2 separate regions of the Homo sapiens genome follow, and region 1 is linked to region 2. Evidence: fine-mapped expression QTL. A gene starts in region 2. The other region holds a variant in brackets. All regions are shown on one strand. Distances are from middle to middle.

What was found.
Region 1: its variant is fine-mapped to the expression of TCAF1 in cerebellum (GTEx, PIP 0.95). The same link has a PIP of 0.9 or more in esophagus muscle.

Annotation. Positions count from the first base shown.
Region 1 is chr7:143,844,555-143,852,894 of GRCh38, forward strand. It overlaps TCAF1 (TRPM8 channel associated factor 1), which reads right to left. Exons shown (of 9, transcript NM_014719.3): 9 at 6,821-8,340. The region is part of intron 2 of LOC112267988 (a long non-coding RNA gene); the gene reads left to right. Among named protein-coding and RNA genes, the nearest start is that of TCAF1, 53 kb to the right of the region's middle. The variant G/A (reference allele first, on the strand shown) is at 3,438.
Region 2 is chr7:143,897,738-143,906,077 of GRCh38, forward strand. TCAF1 (TRPM8 channel associated factor 1) reads right to left here and starts at 4,439. Exons shown (of 9, transcript NM_014719.3): 1 at 4,224-4,439. LOC105375549 (a long non-coding RNA gene) reads left to right here. Exons shown (of 3, transcript XR_007060574.1): 3 at 1-4,216. RefSeq lists enhancers at 3,407-3,944, 3,620-3,669, 8,012-8,340 and a silencer at 4,460-4,599.

The sequences.
Region 1 (8,340 bases), 53 kb before region 2:
AATGAAGATGGAGAAGGAACAGTTACCAAGAAACTAGGGATAGTAGGACACAAAAAACCTGGTAACCTGGTAGTGAGTATGAACCAGTCTGGTGCCTTGCCTCCAGAGGAGCAGCAACTGAGCAGAGCTACTGGACAACCAGCCCTGCACTTCCCTAGAGCACAGACCAGCTCACTATGCAGCCACCAAGAGATAAGCACCGAAGGAGAACCTACCAGCCATGGATCCTCAGAAAACAGACCAGCTAAGTGCCCAGCCTTCAGGGGACAAGCAGCTGAGTGGGCATACCAGCCACACAAACTTCTGCAGCCAAGGCCACTGAGGTACTTGCAGGCACCACTGACATTAACTACAGCTAAAGAAGCTGCATGGAGACTACACTACTGCATCCACCCAGAACAAAAACAAATGTACCTTACCCAACCAACATGCTAGGACACATCTGCAGGTGTAAGTCTTTTCCGCTGAAAGTTATGCTACCAAGTTAGAAAAGGTGATTATTCCATCAGATGCACAGATGCCAGTGCAGGGATACAAGAAACATAAAAAAGCAAGGGAACATGACACCACCAAAGAAACACAATAATTCTCTAGTAACTGACCCCAATAAAAAAATAAAAATTTATGAATTGCCTGAAAAGGAATTCAAGATAGTGAGCCTAAGGAAACTTGGTGAGACATGAAAGAACACAAACGGATCATTCAACAATCGGGAAAAACAGTTCATGATCTGAATGAGAAATTCAACAAAGAGAGAGATATCATAAAAAAGAACAAAATAGAAATCTTGGGGCCAAGAAATTCAATGAATGAAATAAAAAAACGCAATTGAGAGCTTCAACAGCAAAATAGATCAAACAGAAGAATTTTTGAACTTGAAAACAGGCCTTTTGAAATAGTCCAGTCAGAGGTAAAGAAAAAAAAAAAGGAATGAAGAAGCCTATGGCATTTATGGGACACCATAAGTGAACAAATGTTTGCATTTTGGCAACTTAAGAAGAAGAGATGAAGAAAGGCAAAGAAAGCTTATTTAACAAAGTAATAGTTGAAAACTTCCCAAGTCTTGGGGAGATATGGACATCCAGATCCATGAAGTTCAAAGGATCCCACAAAGATTCAACTCAAAGAGGTCCTCTCTGAGGCATATAACCAAACTGTCAAAAGTCAAAGACAAAGAAAAAAATACTAAAAGCAGCATGAGAAAAACATCAAGTCACATATAAGGGAATTGCCATTGGACTATTAGCAGATTTCCCAGCAGCAACCTTGCAGGCCAGGAGAGAATGGGATGATATATTTAAAATACTAGAAGAAAAAAAGCTGCTAGCCTAGAATACTATACCAGCAAATCTTTGCTTCAGAAATGAAGGAGAAATAGTCTTTCCCAGATCAGCAAAAGTTGAGGGAACTCATTACCACTGGACCAGACTTACAAGAAATGCTTGAGTATTTCTATTGGAAAAAAAAGTTTTCATGATAATTGCTACCATAAAAAAACATGAAGTATAAATCTCACTGCTGGAGATAAATGCATTATCAAATTCATAATGCTTCATTACTGCAATGGTGATATGTAATGTTTCAAACCTCTAGTATGAAGGTTAAAGGCCAAAACAGCTGGGTGCTGTGGCATGTGCTTGTAGTCCCAGTTATTTAGGAGGCTGAAATGGAAGGCTCATTTGAGCCCAGGGGTTTGAGTCCAACCTGGGCAACATAATGAGACCCCATTTAAAAAATAATAATAATTAAAAAAATGCAGCTCTGTGGGATGCCAAAAAGTGAAAATTGTAATAATGATTATAGCAATGATAAGTTGTTAAGGAATAAACAATATATAAAGATGTATATTAAAGCAACAAAATTATAAATTTGGGTGCAGAATGAAAGTCTAGAGTATTGGTATGCAATGAAAGTTAACTTGTTATCAGCTTAAAATAGTCTATTATAAGTATGAGAGATTTTTAATGTAACCCCAATACTAATCACAAAGAAAAAATTACAACAGATATACAAATGAGAAAGAGAAAGGAATCAAAGCTTAACACAACAAATACCCTAATCAAGCCACAGAGATAAACATGAGAGAGGAAGAAAGGAACAAAGGATAAACAAAACAACCAGAAAATAATGAACAAAATGGCAGAAGTCCTTACCTATCAATAATAACTTTGAATGTAAATGAAATAAATTCCCAATTAAAACATACGCCGTGGCTGAATGGATTAAATTAAAAAAAAAAAAAAACAAGATTCAGCAACATGCTGCCTACCAGATAGGCACTTCACCTATAAGGCCACACATAGACTGAAGTGAAAGAAGAGAAAATGAAATTCTGTGAAAATGGAAACCAAAACAAAGCAGGGGTAGTAATACTTACATCAGACAAAATAGACTTTAAGTAAAAAACTGTCAAAAGAGAAAAGAAGGTCATTATATAAAGAAAGATAAAGAAATCAGTTCAGCAGAAGGTTAGGACAGTTGTCAGTATATGAGCACACAACACCAGAACACCCAATATATAAAGTAAATATATAAAGCAAATATTATGAGATCTAAAGGGAGAGAAAAATTAAAATAAAATAAAAAAGGACTTTAGCACCCTCTTTCAGCAATGGATGGATCATCTAGATAGAAAATCAACAAAGAATTATCAGATTTAAATTACATTCTAGACCAAATAGCCCCAGCAGATATTTATAAAACATTCCCCTCAATAACTACTGAATGTACATTTTGCTCAACAGCACATGGAACTTTTCTCCACGATAGAATATATGTTAGTCCACAAAACATATCTCAAGCAATCAAAAAAATCAAAATCTTATCAAGTATCTTCTCTTACCACAATGCAATAAAAACTAGAAATGAATACCAAGAGGAACTATGGAACATATACGAATATGTGAAAACTAAAAACAAGTTTTTACAAAACCAGGGCATCAATAAAGAAATTAAAAAGAAAATTTAAAAATTCCTTGAGACAAATAAAAGGAAACATAATGTACCAAGACCTATGGGATACAGCAAAAGCTATTCTAAGAGGGAGTTTATAGCAATAGATGCCTACATCAAAAAAGTATAAGAATCTTTTATAAAAACTTTATGTGGCACCTCAAGGAATGAGAAAAACGAGGGCCAGCTGAACCCTAAACTACTAGAAGAGAAGACTGATAAAGATCAAGCAGAAATAAGTGAAATAGAGCCTGAAAATAATATAAAAATCAGTAGAACAAAAAGTTGGTCCTTTGAAAGATAAACAAATGTTTTAGCTAGACTAACAAAAAAGAGAAGACTCAAATAAATATAATCAGAGCTAAAAAAGGAGATGTCACAGAAATACAAAGGATCATAGAAGACTTTTATGAGCAATTATATGCCAATAAACTGGAAAACCTAAAAGAAATAAATAAATTCCTGGACACATGCAACCTACCAAA[G/A]TTGAACTACTATGAAGAAATAAAATACCTACACAGGCCAATAATGTGTAACAAGAATGAATCAGTAATAATAAGTCTCCCGTCAAAGAAAAGCCCAGGAACTGATGACTTTACTGCTAAGTTCTACCAAACATGTAAATAATAATATCACTTCTTTTCAAACTATTCTAAAAAGTTGAAGAGGTGCAAATTCTTCCACACTCATTCTATGAGGCCAACATTATCAAAACCAGACAAGGATAACTTGATAAAAAGAAAACTACAGGCCAATCTCCTTTATCAACATAGATGCAAAAATCTTTAACAAAATATAAGTGAAACAAATTCAACAGCATATTGAAAAAATAATTCACCACAATCAAGTGAGATTCATCCCAGGGATGCAAGGATGGTTTAACATATGTAAATCACAAATGTGATACATCACATTAACAGAATGAAGGACAAAAATGACATAATCATTTTAATAGACAAAGAAAAAAATTTGATAAAATTTAACATCCCTTCATGATAAAAATTCTCAGCAAATGAGATGTAGAAGTAATATACCTCAACACAATAAAGGCCATAAATGAGAAGCTCATAGATAACATCATACTGAAGAAGTTGAAAGCTATTCCTCTATGATCTGCAATAAGACAAGGATGCCGCATTTATCACTTTTGTTGAACATACTACTGGAAATCCAAGCCAGAGCAATTAGGCAAGAGAAATGAAAGGCATCCAAATAGGAAAGGGGGAAGTCAAATTGTCCTTGTTTGCAGATGACATTATCTTATATATAGAAAATCCTAAAGATTCCACAAAAAACTGTTAGAATAAATAAATTCAATAAAGTTGCAGGATACAAACTCAACATGCAAAAATCAGTAGTGTTTCTATATGCCAGTAGCAAGCTACCTAAAAAAAGATATCAAGAAAGCAATCCACTGACAATAGCTATAAAATAAATACCCAGGAATATAGTTAACAAAGGAGGTGAAACATCTTGAGTGGAAACTATAGAATATGGATAAAATAAATTGAAGAGGACACAAATAAATAGAAAGATAATAATGAATTGCAAAAATTAATATTGTCAAAATGTCCATATTATCCAAAGCAATTTACTAATTCAATGCAATCCCTATTCTTCACAGAAATAGAAAAAAAAATCCTAAAACTTCTATGGAACCACAAAAGACCCCAAATAGCCAAAGTAATCCTTAGCAAAAATAAAGCTCGAGGCATCACACTACCTGACTTTAAAATATACTATAAAGCTATAGTAACCAAATCAACATGGTACTGGTATAAAAATAGACACATAGATAACTGAAACAGAATACAGAACAGAAATAAATCCATGCACTTACAGCCAACTGATTTTCAACAAAAGTGTCAGCAACATGCATTAGGAAAAGGAGAGGCTTTTCAATAGATGGCACTGGGAAAACTGAATATCCACATGTAGAAGAATAAAATTAGACCCCTGTCTCTTACCATATGTAAAAATTAGTTCAAAATTGATTAAAAACTTTAATGTAAGACCTGAAACTGTAAGCATCCTAGAAGAAAACATGGGAGAAACAATTCATGACATTGGTCTCGGCAAGAATTTTTTGAATAAGACCTCAAAAGCATACAACAAAAGCAAATATAGAGAAATGGTACTATATTAAACTAAAATGCTTCTGTACAGCAAAGGAAACAGATTGAAGTTAACTTAAGGAATGGGAGAAAACATATGCAAACTATGCATCTGACAAGGGGTTAATGCCTAGAATATATAGAAAAATAACTCAATAGCAGAAAAATAAATAATTCCATTTAAAGATGGGCAAAATGCCTAAATAGACATTTCTCTAAAGAAGACATACTAATGCTTAGCATCACTAATCATCAGGGAAATGCAAATAAAACCATAATGACATATCACCTCAGTCCAGTTAGAATGGCTATTATCAAAAAGACAAAAAATAACAAATGTTGGGGTAGATGTGAAGAAAGAGGAAGTCTCATATGCTGTTGTAAATTAGTCCAGCAATGATGGAAAACAGAATGAAGGTTCCTAAAAAAGTTAAAAAATAGAAGTACCATATGATCCAGAATCCCACTACTGAGTATATATCCAAAGGAAATAAAATCAGTTATGTGGAAGAGATATCTGCATTCCCATGTTTATTGCAGCATTATTCACAGTAGTTGCATGGAATCAACCTAAGTGTCCATCAGTGGATGAATGGATAAAGAAAATGTGGTGTATATATACAATGGAAGACTATTCAACCATAAAAAGAAATTTTGTCATTTGTGGCAACGTAATTGGGCCCAGAGGACATTATGTTAAGTAAAATAAGCCAGGCATGTAAAGACGAATACTGTACAATCTCACACAAAAGTGGATTCTATAATTTAAAAAGTTGATTTAATAGCAGCAGAGCGTAGAATAGTGGTTGCCAGAGGCTTGGGAGGGTAGTGGGGCAGGGGAGATGGGGATAGACTGGTCAACAGGTACAAAGGTTCAGTTAGATAGGAATAAGTTCTGGTGTTCTATTGCACAGTAGGGTGACTATAGTTAACAATATTATATTGTATATTTCAAAATAGCTAGAAGAGAGGATTTTGAATGTTCTTACCACAAAGGGATGATAAATGTTTGAGGTGAAAAATATGCTAAATACCCTGATTTGATCATCACAAAATATATACGTGTATCAAAACATCACACTATACCCTATAAATATGTACAATTATTATGAGTCAATTAAAAGTAAAATAAAACTTAAAAAAAAGAAACTTGGTGGCCTAAAGATTTCCACTAGATAGTTGGCTGTTTCTCCCAAGTACAGGGTTAAAAATAGCTGAAAAGAGGTTACGATGTTCAGGGAAAGTAGCAAAGAGTACACCAGGGAGACTGACAGATGGACAGAAATGCTCTGACACTAGCTGGCCTCATATAAGACTAAAACTTATTAAAGCTGTCAAATGAAGGGGAGTGCAGGAAAGCTTAGGGCCCTGGATGGTCCTTCTTGAAATGTTTCCCAGAACAGGGGCAAACATCAAAGGCCTTCTTGGAAAAGAATGAAGTTGGCAAACTTCATTCAATGCTGTATTGGACATTCCTTCATTCAACAAATATTAAAACCCACTAGATGGTAAGCTTACTCAGCAGACATGGTGAGATCAGCAGTAGGCTTTGTTTTTTGTGGAACACCTATACAAACAAAAGAATGTGAAGTGTGTTTTAATAACTGGAAGATACTTAATCTGGTTGGAAATAGAGACTTGTGGGGAGATATCATGAGCCTGGACACATCAAGTGGACCTAGATACTTGAGGACCTTGAAAACCATTTTAAAGGCTTTAGCTGGGTTGCATCTTAATCAATGTGAAGTCACTGGAAGATTTTTATTTGGGTTTATTAAAAATTTTTTCAAAGTAATACATGCACAAGGTAAAAAATTAAATAGTACAGAAGGACTTAAAATGAAAAACACAGTTTCCCATCCCACCCTTTTTAAATCTAAATCCCATTCCCTAGAGGTAATGCTTTTAACAATATTTATTTTAGATCGTCTGGTAACTTTCTAACTTTAAATAATATGTTTGAGCAATAATTTCTTGACTTACTGACTTTACAACATCTTTAATAATTCCCCATTACAAAAGATAAGGATTTAACTTACACTATCGCCACTTTCCTTTGTCCATCTCTCTCCAAATGTCTGATAGTTACATCACTTTTTAATACATCTATTGGTTTGATTTTATAGCTTTGAACAATACACTAATCCTCTAGTTCTTGTTCCATTAACTGAAGATCTTTTCATCCCCACTTTGAATATATAAGTATCTCTACCTTTGATTCCACTTCTCTTCCTCTAATTCTCAATCTCTTTCTGCTTTCTTTCCCTTTGTCAGCATTAATTACTTTCAACTTCAGTTCTGAATAAAAAATGAAACCTTTCACACTTTGTTAATAGGCTGATCTGAACATTGAATACTAATAAATGATATCCACATTATTTTGGCTATTTAAATACTTCTTACTGGGAGCCTAGTATAAGCTAGGATATTTTCTTCCCTACACACCCAATATCATCATGCCTGTGCCATAGAAAAGGAAATGTACCTATCAAGCCTCTTCTTATTCTTCATGAATAACTCAAAATCATGCCTCATTTTATTTTGCTCTATAATTGGACCTGAATTTTTTGACATATTGTTGATTTGTCTTTCTTTTTTCTTGACTAAATAATCTTCTCAAGCATCCCAGCTCTTCAATGATACTATCTATGGCACTGAATGCACATTCTTCCCAGAAAGCCCGAGACAGTATGCTCTCATCTGAAATTAGTCTGCTGGATAGCTGTCACTCTAGGGTGAGATACCCTTTTGGCTGTCACTCTAGAATGAGACATCCTAAGTAAGGTCCACTGTTTTATGGATCCCATTTCTTCTTCTTTCCTGGTTTTCATCCTCATTTTGCTGGAGAATTTCCTCAAGATACTTCCTCAGTAAGGGTGCAAAGGAGACTTTCTGAAAATTTGCCTGACAGAAAATGTCTTCACTTTGATGTTCTTCTTGACAGTCTGCCTTACTATGAAATTCTAGGTACAAAAATTTTCCTTAAGCTCTGAAGATGTTGATCCATTGACTTCTGGCATTCAGTGTTGCTGATGACAAATCTGTTAGCAGTCTATTTCTCATCCATTTTTGTGTTGAGCTAATCGTGATGACCTCATTTGTTTTCTCCCTGGCCACTTTAATATCTTCCTTCTATCCTTAATATTCCAAAATTTTACAATATTGTGTCTAGATGTAGATTGTATTGGGCCCTCTCAATCTGGAGACTTAGCTTGCTCTGTTCTTCAATTCTTTTTCTTTTTATTTCTTCACCTACACTGTCTCTGTTCTCTCT
Region 2 (8,340 bases):
TCTTCTGAAAAAATACACTCCAAACACAGATGATTTTACAGGTGATTCAAGGAAATATTCAAGGACCAGATAATCCCAATCTTGCACAAATTCTTCCAAAGAATAGCATAAGGGAGAATACTATTCATATTATTTTATGATAATACCAGCATCAGAAAAGGATAGTACAGAAAAGTATAATTACATGCCAATCTTAAATCACACGTATAAATATAAATATCCAATGTTTACCTTTTGTATCTATATCCACATACAGAAATTACTACATATTTACCACAAAAGGTTTATTCCAAGAATACAAAATTGGTTTAATATCAGAAATTAAATACTATACTTTACTATGTTGTTAATATAGTTAAAGGAAAAAAAGTATATATATTCTCAACAGCTACAGGAAAAGCATTTGAAAAAACATCCATTTATAATAAAAGTGCTTACCAAAAGAAGAACAGAATTTTCTTATGATGGGGAAGACATTTACAAAGTAACTATAGCAAATGTCATTTTTAAGTTGACATAATGAAATATTTCTCATTATTATCTTAAGGACAAAACAAGATGCCCTTTATTACTTTTATTCAACAGTGTACTGGAGCTCCTAGTCATTGTCATAAGACAGAAAAAATAAATTGAAGGTATGAGAATTAGAAACGAATAAACAAAATTATCATTATTTTCGGATGATATGATTGCCTATGTAGCAAATCTGAAAGAAGCTACAGGTAAATTTAGAATTATTAATTTTCTCAAGTTTGATTGATATATAATTAATATATAAAAGGCAACTGAATTTCTGTATGCCAGCAACAATAAACTACAAAATATAACTTTTACAAAAGAAAATGCTTACAATAGCAGTAAAAATATGACGTGCCTAGAAATTTAACAAAAACTGAGCCAAAAGAAAACAATAAAAAATAGTACAAAACATTGAAGATGACTTAAATAGTGTCATATACCATGTTCATTGAGGAAAAGGGCCAATGTCTTAGAAATAATTTCTGCCCAAAATAATTTATAGAGTGCAATGGTTTGAATGTGTCCCTCAAAAAGCAGGTGTTGGAAACTTAATCCCCAATGCAATGGTGTTAAGAGGTGGGCTTAATGAGAGGCCATCAGGTCATGACAGCAGAGTGAATGAATTAATGCCATCACTGTAGGAGTGAGTTCATTATAAAAGGCGGCATTCACCCTCCTTTTACACTCTCTTTCAGCCTTTCTCTGCCTTTATGCCATGGAATGACACAGTAAGAAGGCTCTTTCTTGCCAGATGCCAGCCACTCAATCTTGGACTTCCCAGCCTCCAGAACTGTGAGCTGATAAATTTTTGTTCCTTATACATTACTCAGTCTCAGGTATTCTGCTATGGTAGCACAAAACAGACTAAGACACAGAGTTGATCCATTATCAATCAGAATTCCAACAGGTTTATTTGCTTGTTTGTTTCTTGTTTTGGAGAACTTGATAAGTTTATTTAAATATTTATATGGAAGGTCAAAGGTCCAAGTAAAGCTAAAACACTCTTAAAGAAGAAGAAACAGGTGATAGGACTTTTCCTACCAAATTTCAAGGCTTTTAATAAAACTATAGTGGTTAAAAATTATTTAGTATTGAGGCAGAGTTAGACAAATAGAAAATAAGAATGGGGGCTTAAAACGAATTCATGCTTATATGGAAATCCTGATTCATGCAAATCACTGGTGCTGGGGCAACAGATTATCCATATGGAATAAACAACATAAAAATCAGTTTCCATGTGGATTAAGACTAATTGCCAAAGGCAAAACTATAACACTTTTAGAAAACGATACACTAAAATTAATCTATGATCTTGAGAAAACAATTATCAAACAAGAAAAGCTATAAAAGAAAGTACTACTAACTTGAAATTAAATTCAAAACTTAGATTCATTGATAGAAACAGAGAAAGAAACAGATATAAAGACATAGAGAGAAAGAAAACCTCAAAAGCAAATTGGAAAGATGTCTGTGGCATATATAGCTAACAATTACTGCTTCGTACCCAGATTATATAAAGAAAGCATTCCAATGAGTCAATAAAAAAGGTAAACAAACAATCCAATACAAAAATGAAAGAGACAGGAATCAGAATTTCACAAAGAGAAAGCACTGATCAACATATAAAAAGTCAATCTCATTAGTTATGGAAAATGCTAGTTAAAATCACAGTTAAATGCTATTTCATACCTGCCAGACTGACAAAAAATGTAATTTTACAAGACTAAGCTGTGGCAAGCATGTAGAGCAACAAGAATGCTCATCCACTGCTGGAGGGAGTGCAAACTGGTTTAACACTTTGGAAAGTTTAGAAATGACCCAATAAAATTGAATACACATAAATCTTATAACTCCGCAATTCTACTCCCAGCTATATACTCTAGGGAAGCTCCCACACAAGTGTACTTGAATATTAGAGGACATGGGCAGGCTTTAAAGTGGCCCCGATAATCCCTGCCTCCAGGTGTTCATGTCCTTGTGTCACCCCCTTCCCTTCAGTGTGAGTTGGGCCTAGGGACTCACTTCTAATGAATATAAAATGGCAAAAATAATGGGATGTCGCTTCTGAGGTTACAGAAAGAATCTGACTTCTGTCTTTCTCTTTTTCTCTGTGGGAGCCTTCTCTCTGGGGGGAGTAAGCTGCCATGTTGCAACCATTCTTTATACAGAGGCCCATGTGGCAAAGAACTGATGTGTACAGCCAGGGTCAGTGAGGCCAATCGGCCTGCCAGCAGTCATGTGAGTAAGCCTGGGAGAGGTCCTCGACCCTACGCCTAGCCTTGAGATGACTGAGGCCCAGTCAATACCTTGATTGTTGATACAGCTTGTGAGAGACCCTGAGTCAGAGACTCCCAGCTAAGCCCCTCCTGGATTCCTGATCACAGAAACTGTAAGATAGGAGGTAACAGGACTTGTTTTGTTTGTTCGCTTTGGTTTGAAGCTGCTAGGTGTTGGGGTAATTTGTTACATAGCTTATAGATAAATCATACACCTCCAAAAGTAGAAACAATCCAATGTCCATCAGCAGTAGAATGGATAAATTATGTACATTTACACCTTAAATGACGAAAACGAAAATGGAAGGAAGCATGAAAGATGAATCTATAAAACTTAAGAATACGTACAGGATAATGTCATTAATATAATGTCATTATAATGAGAAAGCCAATACATATGTTTTAGGAATACACACACAAATATGGTAAAACTAAAAAGAAAAGCAAGGGATTCATTAAATTAAGACAAAAATCACGAAAGATGTCACATCTCAGAGAATGGAGGAGAATGGACCATGGGCATCAGTTGGGACTCATGGGCTTCTAAGGTACTGTGACGCCCTATTTCTTGACCCAAGGAGATGGTCAGGCATTCGTTTCATTATTTTTTAGACCATTCTGAGATATTTCATTTACTTTTTATTCAACATTTTAAAACAAAGTATTGAAACCAATTCATCAACAAATCACTAGTTTGGAGGATGAAAGTGATGGACCGATGGTTGGCTGGTCAGCTAGACAGACACATTCTGTCCTTTACGTCTAGTTCGAGCTGTACTTCTTCTAAATTTCCATGATTATCCAATTGGCAAAGATCTTTTTCTCCTGTACTTAAGGCCTTCTTCCGTTGCAGGTTGGGCCAAACTAGCGGCCAGCTCTCGGCTGTTTACCAGGGAACTGTATCACCCAGCACTTGCTGCTTCAGGCCAAATGCATTCCAGACTAACATTCAGCCTGAATCCCCGCGCCGCTCTCACCGCCACCCCTCCCCAGGTCCCTTCCCCCACCACAAACCCACACTGCGCCCGTGGGCGCCTAGAGCACTGGGGTGGATGAGAACTTCCACCTGGGCTTAACGGAGACAAGCTAGCCTAGAAGAATGCAAGCCCCCAGCTGGCGAGATCAAATCGCCTCGAGGGTTCCTGCTAGCTCAGATCTTAATGGCTCCTTGCGGAGCAAAAAACAAATCCTACGAAAATAGGGGGGGTCATCGCCTCCTGCCCAGCAGAGGGCATAACAATGCGGCGAGAATGAAATAGGCACCGAGCTGCAGAGAAAAATCATCAACGGGGTAGAGACGAAGGAAGGGATCCTCGGTGGAACGGCTCTATCACCTGGGGGCGCGCGCAGAGGCCGCAATCCACGCCCGGCCCTCCCCAGACGCTAAACGTCGCACCCCGCCCACCGCTCCCCGCCCCGGACACTAACCCGGGGCCCAGGCCTCGGTCACCGCGGGCCTCTCCTGGTCCAGAGTCTACGCTGAACCCCACTCACTGTTTGCCCCGCTGTTCCCTGCAGCGCGGGTTCGGGGCAGTAGCAACCTGCTAGGAGCGGGAGGCGGTTGTTCCCAGGAGGAAGCAGCTTCTCCGCCCAGGAGGCAAAGGGCAGCGGGCTCGAAACTACAGGACTTGGAAAGTCTTAGGCGGAGACTGCGGGGGTGGGGGGTGGTGAGGAGGGGCCTTCCAGGGAGCTGATTGGTCGACGCGGACGGGGGCGGGACTTGGCCGGCGCCGTCCCTCCCCTAGACCTCAGAGGCCCTGCCCGCAGATGTGGCGCCAAATCCCGGATGCAGGCCTAGGCGCCAGCCCAGGAATATAGGGAGCAAATTGTTAAGAACAAAACAAAACAAAACAAAAGTGAGAATACTTCTGAACAAGTGACGGCCTTGATAAATAGCGAGAGATGTTTATATAAAATAATACAGGACTATTTTTAAGGACGAGTGAAATCTATCGGTTCTAGCTATAGTTTTTAATTAAAAAAGCAAGTTGTATTAAAATGGAGAGTAGGATCTCTCTTTCCCCCTCCCCTCCCCTCCCCTCCCCTCCCCTCCCCTCCCCTCCCCTCCAGGGGGAGGGTCTGCTTCTGCCACCCAGGCTGGAGTGCAGTGGTGCCATCACAGCTCACTGCAGCTTCAACCTCCCAGGCTCAAGCGATCCTTCCACCTCAGAGGCTGGGACCACAAGTGCGCCGCCACCACGCCCAGCTAACTTTTTGATTTTTTGTTAGAGACAGGGTTTTACTTTGTTGCCCAGGCTGGTCTCGAACGCCAGGGCTCAAGTGATCCTCCCGCCTCGGCCTCCCAAAGTGCTGGGATCACAGGCCTGAGCCACTGCATCAGCTTTAGCATTACATTCGTGTATGAAGAAGACATGCTGCATGTGCTTCTATAAGAGGCGGGGCTAACGGTGGAGAAATTGTCTATTGATTCTTACCTTCACAACCACTGAATTGTTTTTTTTTAAACCAATACATTGTTTTTATAAGTTTAATAAAACAGTAAGGCGTTGAGAATGTTACTAACCAATCAACAGATGACAGATATTGGGCATGAGGGAGGAAAGAAAGAAAGGAGTAGCAGGGAAAAAGCCTGGACTTTGAAGCCACCACATCCTCTGCTTACAAGTTGGGCAGTGTATTCATTGCTAAGGCTGCTGTGATAAATTTTCACACATTTAGTGGCTTAAAACAACACAGATTTACTACTATCTTCCAGGACTGTAGGTCCTGGAAGTCCAGCACAGGTCTCACTGGGCTATCATCCAGGTGTAGGCAGGGATGTGTTTCTCTTTGCAGGATCTAGGGACAAATCTATTTTCCTTGCTTTTTCCAGCTTCCAGAGGCTCCCGCATTCCCTGGCTTGCAGCCCTTTCCTTCATCTTCAAAGTCAGCAATCTCATGGCTCCAGCCTCTGCTTCTGTGTCACATCTCCTTCTTTGAGTCTCCTGCTTCCTTCTTTCACTTAGAAGGACCTTGTGATTACATTGTGCCTATCCAGATAATCTAGATAATTTCCCATCTCAAGGTCAGCTAATTAGCAGCCTTCATTCTGTCTGCAACCTTAATTCTCCCTTGCCATGTAGCATTGCGTATCACAAATTCTGGGAATTAGGATCTGGACATCTGTATTAATCCATTTTCACACTGCAGATAAAGACATTCCCCAGACTGGGCAATTTACAAAAGAAAGAGGTTTAATTGGACTCACAGTTTCACGTGGTTGGGGAGGCCTCACAATCATGGCAGAAGGCAAGGAGAAGCAAGTCACATCTTATGTGGATGGCGGCAGGCAAAGAGACAGCTTGTTCAGGGAAACTGCCGTTTTTAAAACCATCGGATCTCCTGCGACCTCTCCACTATCATGAGAACGGTTGGGGAAAGACCCACCCCCATGATTCAATCATCTCCCACCAGATCCCTCCCATAACACGTGGGAATTATGGGAGCTGCAAGATGAGATTTGGGTGGGGGCACATAGCCAAACCATATCAACATCTTTAGGGAGCTATTTTTCTGCCTATCACAGAGGGCTTGTTAACTTCTATCTTAGTGTTTTCATCTGTAACATTGGGGATAATAATTGTCTCTACTTCATGGAATTTTTATGAAGATTAAATGACTTAATACAGATAAAGCTCTTAAAGCAGTGTCTGGCACATGGAAAACCCTATGTGAATGTTCACCATTACCAGAGAATGGACAGATCCTTCCAGACTTCTTCCATGATTTCCTTGGCCCTTGTCTCCTTTGCTCTTCAAATCTCCAAGTTGTGTGTTCTCTCCTCATTTCCCTGCAAATCTAGTCTCCCCTCAAAACTACATAGGCCTAGCCTGAGATTGGAGGGCAGACATGGATGGGACTTTACTTCTAAGAGATTTCTAGAAGTGAATGCACCCAGCTACTAGCACAGAGGCATAGTTTATGACTACTATGGTGAAAGGAAAAACCAGCGTCTGGATGTGTTTGTGCGGTTAAATGGGGTGTCTGGGGGGAAACTGTGGGGGCAGGTGGGTGTTTGGGGATTGTAGACTGAGTGTGTCTGAAAGACCAGGATTGCTTGCAGTTACCTCTCTTTCTCATTCTCTCATTTCTCATTCTCTCTGCCAAGACAGCTGCACTTCTCTCTTGCCAGATCCCTTCTCCCCTCAGAAGCTGACAGTCAACAGGACATAAGCTTGCCCACCCCCACTCCCTCTCCAGGCACACAAGCAAAACCCACCATTTTTAGTTGCTGTTGTTTTTGCTGTGCAATTGGTCATAGAATTTCAGAGCTACAACATCTCATCCACTCTCCTCCTTTATATTAATACAAAAAGGAACACTGAAATGCAAGCAGCAGAAGGGGTTTGCAGCAGGTAGAGGTGGAGCATGACCTTGGAATTCAGATGCCAGCGCTCTTGCAGTACAAAGTCCTTGAGGCTGAGATCACTGGCTAGTCCTCTCGGCGCCTCATGTTTCTGTGTGTGTGTGTGTGTGTGTGTGTGTGTGTGTGTGTGTGTGTGTGTGTTTGTGTGTGTATATGTTTTAGGGTATGGAAGGACACGGAGCCAGTGCAGCAGAGAAAACCCCTTCACCAGCAAGCACACCAAGACTCCTGAACCTGGGCCAGTGCGAGTTCTGGGCCAGCCAAGGCCAGGAGTTTCCATTTCACTTGCCTCCTCCCGCTACTGGCCACCCCTCAGCTCCTCCAACCCCCTCACCCACCACTCCCCCACCCCTTTCCTCTCCTTCTCAGGCTTGCTCTTTGTGGACTGGCTGTGATCCTGGGAGGAAAGGAGGAGAGAGGGGAGCCCTGCCAGACTGCAAGCAGAGTGCTGACAGCCCCTAGGAGTTTAAGATGACCTTTCTTACACGTCATCGCATGTTTTATAGCTCTGAAGAGCAGCAGTCTTTTTGGTGGCTAGTAAGTGCAGTACTAGACAACAAGGCAAGTGGTCTGTTGGTAAGAGTTCCTGCCCACGATGCTCTCTACCTGTAAGGAATTAAATTATCTCGGGGATGAAGGTGAACAATATGTAAGAGAGAAGATGGACAGAAAGACCCAAGGGAAATGAGCAGTAAAAGGGAAGCAGGGTTTAGAATTGAGGGAGACCTGTGAGATTGGGGCAGAAAGGGAAAACAGGTCAAACAGGCTCAGAAGGGAAGTGGAGGGGTTTTGCTTTTGAGAAAGGTGCTGTAGGGAGGAGAGACACAGCAGTGGGAGTGAAGGAACCCACAGTGCAGGAAGAAGGTCTTATTTATATTAGAGTGAGGTCATTGGCAAGAGAGAGAGAGAGACAGAGACAGAGACAGAATCCATCTGATTCCCTTCCTTCTGGCTTGACTGGAAGCTGGAAAGGATGGATGGAGAGGGTTGGTGCTGAATTCTGAAACCAGCCCTCGGTAACATGGCCAGCAAATTGCTCTCAGCTTTATGAAATTTGTAGTCTTGTCTATAGTTTAGGAATCTAAACCTGAACCGGTTCTCGAAAACATGGCAATGTAATCTTCTCCATTTCCCAACCTCCCTGCCATCTCTCAGTCCGGTAGCTAGGATGTGTAATTC